Homo sapiens: one gene and its partner. The protein of the gene in region 2 binds, or shares a complex with, the protein of the main gene of each other region. Each region holds a gene or a part of one and is shown on either strand. Other genes may lie near its edges.

Region 1 (3,649 bases), on a different chromosome or scaffold from region 2:
AGGATCGCTTGAGCCCAGGAGGCAGAGGTTGCAGTGAGCCAAGATCTTGCCACTGCACTCCAGCCTGGGCAGCAGAACCAGATCCTGTCTCTGGAAAAAAGATAGCAGCAGTCACCCCTAGGTGTTGGGATTGGAGGTGATCTTATTTTCTTTTTATTTTTCTGACTTTTCTAAATCTCTGATAAACTTGCAATTAAAGAAAAAATAACAGAAAATGTGTTATATGCAGTATTATTGGAGGTACTATTAATATTTGCAAGTGTTCAGACCTAATTGCGGGGAAATGATGGCAGGATTCTACAGGTATATTTTAGAGCAGTTGTGAGATGCATGTAACTATTTGTAAAGGTTCATACAGATGATTACTAGATCAGCATAAATAATATGTCTGTGGACGTTTTCTGCAGGACTTTGATAACTTGTTACCTGAGTGAAATTTAATTCCTGGGCGATTCTGGGAGATGGTAAAGTGAGGCGGAAGGAGCCAGCGGCCAATTCCTGAACTATTCTGGGAAACGGTGGCGTGAGGCGGAAGGAGCCGGTGGCCAAGGTCCCAGTAGTGTCACATGATCTTCCCGCGTGTTTGCTGCACTGGGAAAAAATGTTGAAGAATTAGTTTGAAAATTGCCCCGTTGGCCAGGAGTGATGGCTCACTCCTATAATCCCAGCACTTTGGGAGGCTGAGGTGGGAGGATAGCTTGAGCCTGGGAGGTCGAGGCTGCAGTGAGCTGATTGCACCATTGCACTCTAGGATGACAGAGTGAGACCCTGTCTCAAAAAAACAAAACAAAAATTGCCCTGATCCACACAAATTCTTGGTTTTGTTTTTATAAATGTGCTTCTATAAAATGAAAGCCAAAGTGTTCTGTTATTTCAGTTTTTTTTTTTAATCTCCTTTTAGGTTAAAAATTTTGCAGTTATTTATCTTGTGGATATTACAGAAGTGCCTGACTTCAACAAAATGTATGAGTTATACGATCCATGTACTGTCATGTTTTTCTTCAGGTACGTTATCTTAAAGTTGTTACTGAAATTGAATATTGTCAGTTTGGAAGCTTAATGTAATCAAGATCTCTTTAGATTATTTTATTTTGAAGGAAGTTGGTTGTACAGTCATGTCCCAAAATCGTTTGTATCACCAGGCAATCAGTGTGAATCTTTGAAATAATTTTCAAAGTAACAATTCTAGTTTTAGCATTTACTCAGTAACAAATTACCCTTTTGAAATAACTTTGCGGGGAAACCTAGGTGAAGTGTAATTCAATGAAAGATGTTGTTACTGACATTTTAGATACCTGGAACTATAATCTGTTCATCAAAAATGTTGTAAAATCACAAATTTAGGCCGGGCACAGTGGCTCAAAGCGCCTGTAATCCCAGCACTTTGGGAGGCCGAGGTGGGTGGATCACAAGGTCAGGAGTTCGAGACCAGCTGGGCTAAGATGGTGAAACCGAGTCTCTACTAAAAATACAAAATTAGCCGGGCGTGGTGGTGCATACCTGTAATCCCAGCTACTGGGAGGCTGAGGCAGGAGAATCACTTGTACCCAGGAGGTGGAGGTTGCAGTTAGCCGAGATCATGCCATTGCACTCCAGCCTAGGCAACAAGAGCAAAACTCCGTCTCAAAAAAAAAAATCAAAAACCTAATTTATTAAATATGTTATCATCAACTTCGGTGTCCTTTTTTATATCCAAGAGGAACACCTGAACTACTTTGCTTATAAATACAAGATTATTTTATCAGCTCAAAAATTTCATTATGGAAATTTAATGGGGAAAGAAATCACCATCTGATGCTGTTTTTACTTGTTTAGTTACCATAGAGGTTGGTGAATTAGCTACATGAGCATTAGACCATTCTCCAAAAGTGGAGCCTCCTACTCGGTAAGGAAGGTCAGGTGGGTTGTATAGGGTATGCGTTAGTTTTGTATTCTTTGTAACAAATTAGCACGCATTGAGCAGCTTAAATCACCCCGCTTTTCTGAGCTCACAGTTCTGTAAGTCAGACATCCAGGCAGGGCCCGCTGGATTCCTGCTCAGGGTCTCACAAGGTCTGAACCATGGGCTGGGTGCTTATCTGGAGTGTTTGAGGGGCTTGTTTGGGTTGTGGGCCGAGTCTGGCTCTTCGTGGTGGTGGGTCTGAGATCTGCTTCCTTGCTGCTGTTACCTGAGGCCACTCTGCTGCCAGAGACCCAGTTACCCTCAAAGCCAGCACTGGCATGCCGGCACATTGAGAACTTTTCACACAGGTTCTCTGACCTGAAAAGTTCTGCCTGAGAAAATGCTCTGGTTTTAGAGGACTGTGATAAGATTAGACTTGCCCAAATAATCCAGGATAGTGACCTTGTTTTATTTATTTATTGAGATGGAGTCTCACTCTCACCCAGGGTGGAGTGCAGTGGCACCATCACAGCAAGCTTGAACTCCTGGCTTCGAGCCATCCTCCCGCCTCAGGCTGCCAAAGCGTGAGGCACTGCCGTGGTTCTGGGCGTCGGGATACGCTCCCCTGGACACGCCCTTGGCTTCCTAGGTGCCTCCTGTTAGGTTGAGAAGATCTGTGAGGTGCACCCTGCATTTCTTGTGAACTTTTCATCTTTCCTAGGTTTCAGCAAAGGTTGCGTGGCTGACCCTCATCCTTTTCTCTACTGTGTGTTCAGCAGCCATTTCTGAATTTCAGCCCCTTTGGCCATCCGGAGAGGCTAAAGAATTTATTCCTTTTGTTAACAGTTCTTACACTAATTTGCCTCTTTCCTCTCTTGAAGGCAGCACCTCCGAGACTTTGCTTGGAAGTTTCCGCAGCTAAATATCCCGAGTGTGTTGCTTTTGAGCTCTGACTTCCTATAACTGCGGACCCCGTGTCCCTGTTCCTCGGCCACTCTGTAACGGGGGTCCCCTTTTCTCCGTTTCCCAGTAACACACTCCTCACTTCCTTCCAAGCCCACACCAGGTGTTCCTGAAGTCCATATTTCTGTTAACAGCCTGTTCGAGGCAATAGAGGCCTTTTCTATTTTGCCCCTCAGAATTCTTCAGGTGAGAACAGGGAGGGCCGTCTTAGGTCTCTGCCCCCCACAGCGTGCAGTGGAGGCCAGCCTGGGGCTGGAGATGCTGTGAGGGGCAAGGAGGCTGCAGGCAACAGCCTTGGGTGGCGGGAGCAGCCTACTTAGTGTAGTTTGATATTTTTAGGACTGATGCTGTACTCAGAAAAGGAGATGAAACTTCCTTCTGCTGTTTCTGTGATTTAGAATTTTAAGACAAACGGTACTTTAGTTAACTTATGCACCAAACATATATCTTGAGCCCCCACCAGGTTTGTGGTCTAGTGGTGGAGCCTAATGTCAGATAAGACAGGATTCCCACTCTCATAGGACGTTGTCTGATAGAAACAGCTGAGTAAATTAGCAGGGGGTTCTGAAGAAGTGAAAGGAGGCAGATGTTTATGAGATATAAATACCGAAGAAGTACACCCAGGTCAGATAGGGCTGCAGGGAGGGTGCTACGGGCAGCCCCCAGTCATTGTAGAAGGAGCTTGGTGCATGCTGCATGTAGGGCCTGCCTGCAGCATGGAGAATGAGAGGGCGGCCAGAGGTGGGCTCCAGACCCTGATCAGATTTGCCTCTCCTGAACCAGAGACTTCACGGGGAATACTTT
Region 2 (3,649 bases):
AGGAAGCTAAAGAAGAGTTAATTCAGCAAGAGTTGTGAGGTAGAGAAGAGATTTGGTCAAAGTGGATGTTTCAAGAATATGCGTTGCTGGGCCGGGCACGGTGGCTCAAGCCTGTAATCCCAGCACTTTGAGAGGCCAAGGCGGGCGGATCACGAGGTCAGGAGATTGAGACCATCCTGGCCAACATGGTGAAACCCCGTCTCTACTAAAAATACAAAAAATTTAGCCGGGCGTGGTGGCGGGCACCTGTAGTCCCAGCTACTCGGGAGGCTGAGGCAGGAGAATGGCGTGAACCTGGGAGGCGGAGCTTGCAGTGAGCTGAAATCAGGCCACTGCATTCCAGCCTGGGCAACAGAGCAAGACTCCGTCTCAAAAAAAAAAAAAAAAAAAGAGAATATGCATTGCTGGCCAGGAGCAGTGGCTCACACCTGTAATCCGAGCACTTTGGGAGGCAGAGGCAGAGGCAGGCAGATCACAAAGTCAGGAGATCGAGACCATCCTGGCTAACACGTTGAAACCCTGTCTCTACTAAAAAATACAAAAAAAATTAGCCAGGCGTGGTGGCGGGCGCCTGTAGTCCCAGCTACTCGGGAGGCTAAGGCAGGAGAATGGCGTGAACCCGGGAGGCGGAGCTTGCAGTGAACCGAGATTGAGCCACTGTGCTCCAGCCTGGGCCACACAGCGAGACTCCGGCTAAAAAAAAAAAAAAAAAAAAAGAGTATGCGTTGCCTTTGGAAAAATGATTTTTGATAGCCCTGTTCAAGGTTAGAAATTCAGGAAACAGACCAGCTGGAAGGGAACGAAGCACCTCATACACTCTTGGACCTCCCACAGAATACTTCCCAAGGTATTTTGGGGATAAGTTCAAATGAGATGTTCTCAGCCTTTCATCTAATAAACCAGTAAATATTACCAAGTCCACCCCAAGAATAAGAGGCAACATGGTTCTACAGCCTCTTCATCTTTAAACCTGCTCACCTGCCCCAAACGCTTCTGTCCCGCCCACACGGACGTGTGGATTATCTTGAGGAACAGCTGCCCTGTGCGTGGGTTGAAGATGAAGATGGCTCCGTTGATGGGCTTGGTTGTCAAGTTCCCTTCAAAGGTCTAGAGGAGGACGGCATTCGTTAGCATGGCCTACACAACACATCCCCATCCTGCCTTCTTCCCAGCATGTGTACACACTTAGCCCATTACTCTCCCACAGCCATGTACAGAGTCCCGCACCTATACACTGCTGCTAACACTCACCTTGTGAATAGTCACTCTGTAGACGTTGGTGTCATCCACAAACCAGATAATCTGGTTGGAGAAGAGCTCACCATAGTTCTGAGAAGACAAATAAGGCTCAGTGGGTTCAGATGAATAGAGCTGTAGCCCCTTGCGGATCCGTTCACGTAACACATACAGGGCAGGGTTTGCCTTCATGATCTTGGCCATGGCCTGTTGTATGAGAGGCTTGCTGCCTGGGAACCAGTTTCCATAGGCACTGTGAGGATAAAAGGGTCAAGAAAAGTTAAGACGAGAATGACAGCCCCAGAAACAAGACAAGCTGCCAACTCTACAGAGGAAGAAAGACTGTTCGCCAGGCTGACAACACTCTGCTCATGTGTACATACAGGCTGGAGAAGAGAATCAGTGACCCATAGGAGGAATGGGCCACTTCCTCTCACTTAGGTAAAGTAAAAAAGTATGACTACGTTAAAGTATGGAGCTAATGGAAAATACACGGATTATTTATTTATTTATTATTATTATTATTTTTCTTTGAGATGGAGTCTCACTCTGTCGCCCAGGCTGGAGTGCAGTGGCGCAATCTCGGTTCACTGCAAGCTCCGCCTCCCGGGTTCAAGTAATTCTCCCACCTCAACCTTCTGAGTAGCTGGGACTACAGGCGTGGACCACCACGCCCAGCTAATTTTTTGTATTTTGGTAGAGACAGGGTTTCACCATGTTGCCCAGACTGGTCTCAAACTCCTGAGCTCAGACAATCTGCCCACCGCGGCCTCCCAAAGTGCTGGGATTACAGGTGTGAGCCACTGCGCCTGGCCTGAAAATACATGGTCCTGAGCCTCAACTCACCTGTGCAAGTTATAGGCCAGGTCAATGGCGATGAGTACACCTGTGGGCGAAGGGTAGATACTCATGTTGTCGGTGGTGTAGTCCAGGAACTTGGCCCGGGCGTAGCGCTCAATGTCGTGGGAATCATAGTCCCCCCAGCGCAACTGGATGTCAATCCAGTATTTCTGGGTGGTGGTGCTGTCCATCACATCCCTGAGGATGAAGAGGGTTCAAGCTTCTAAGAAACCATGGGCATAACCAATGTCCCCAGAACCAGAACCACTTAAATCCCAAAACCATCCCACCCACTCCACCAACTTGTTCCAGGTCAGCAGGACCCCAGAGAATCAGCAGATCTGACTAAGGGTGTTGACAGGCTCCAAGCGTAGCACTGGCTCCAAGTTTGAAACAAAGGCAGACAGGACAATTCCTAAAGTTGCAGGGCTAGAAGAACAGGAAAACGAAAGTGTCCTGGCTGCCTAGGGCTGGGTCCTGAGGCACTTACTTGGAGTCAGCCAGCAATGAGGGCCGGGAGACATTCCACTTATAGGAGGCAAAGAGCAGGATATCTGCACAGGAAGAGTTCATCTTATATGACTTTCGGGGATGGATTGTCTCCTTTTGTACTGTCTCAATTTCCAGTGCATCAAGTTCCTGGTCAAACACCTGAAGGAAAACATGGAGAGATTAAGACTTGTTAAGGAAGCCCAATTAAAATCAGAGTTTGTACAATAAGATAATGAGGCAATAGGAGTCTCATCCTCAGAGCTTCCAGGGTGGATTTCCCATATGCAAAAGAGCAAGCTGAGCTGACTCTGTACAGCACGCTCTCCCCGCGATTCCACCTGAGCTGACTCTGTACAGCACCCTCTCCCCGCGATTCCACCTAAGCTGACTCTGTACAGCACCCTCTCCCTGCGATTCCACCTGAGCTGACTCTCTACAGTACCCTCTCCCCACGATTCCACCTGAGCTGACTCTGTACAGTACCCTCTCCCCTCGATTCCACCTGAGCTGACTCTGTACAGTACCCTCTCCCCTCAATTCCACCTGAGCTGACTCTCTACAGTACCCTCTCCCCTCGATTCCAGCCCACCTGACATAAGTCCATAACAATGCTCTCATGGATCTTCTGCCACAAGTGAGCTCGGAAGATCTGGATGAGAGAGATCTTCAGCGTGGGGATCTTGCCGTGCATGAAGATACCCGTCAGGTCTAGCTGCACCTGAAAGCCTACATATACCTGCCAGGAAAACGACAATGTGACATTAGAGATCAAGAGACTCGGGCGCTCACGACATAACCAAGGCAAGAAGCAGCAACTGTCTTTAGCTTCCCCTCTCCAGTGTCAATCACACTCACATTGGCTCGATTAATGGTCGGGGACCACCAGAGGGTGAATCTACGATTGGGAATCTGGTTCAGTCCTGATCGCTGAGCATTAGTTAGCTTCTTCCACTTCATAGATTCCTCAAAGCCACTGGCCTTCTCCCTGGGGAGCAAGAGAAGCAGGTGAGGTGATATCCTGCCATTTCCCAGCACACTGCTAACCTCCTGGAGGTGGCTGTCTGGGAAACACCACAGGAAA

The links. The genes of interacting proteins can lie anywhere in the genome.
Region 1: PRPF8 (region 2) and TXNL4A share a complex: the UniProt entries of both Homo sapiens proteins name them as parts of the U4/U6-U5 tri-snRNP complex.

Annotation. Positions count from the first base shown.
Region 1 is NC_000018.10:79,974,954-79,978,602, reverse strand, and holds part of TXNL4A (thioredoxin-like protein 4A), read left to right. Parts: intron 1-901; coding exon 902-1,005; intron 1,006-1,815; exon of another isoform or gene 1,816-1,885; intron 1,886-3,649. UniProt on the Homo sapiens protein: Plays a role in pre-mRNA splicing as component of the U5 snRNP and U4/U6-U5 tri-snRNP complexes that are involved in spliceosome assembly, and as component of the precatalytic spliceosome (spliceosome B complex).
Region 2 is NC_000017.11:1,657,275-1,660,923, forward strand, and holds part of PRPF8 (pre-mRNA-processing-splicing factor 8), read right to left. Parts: intron 3,554-3,649; coding exon 3,424-3,553; intron 3,305-3,423; coding exon 3,158-3,304; intron 2,728-3,157; coding exon 2,567-2,727; intron 2,275-2,566; coding exon 2,083-2,274; intron 1,490-2,082; coding exon 1,252-1,489; intron 1,108-1,251; coding exon 979-1,107; intron 1-978. UniProt on the Homo sapiens protein: Plays a role in pre-mRNA splicing as core component of precatalytic, catalytic and postcatalytic spliceosomal complexes, both of the predominant U2-type spliceosome and the minor U12-type spliceosome.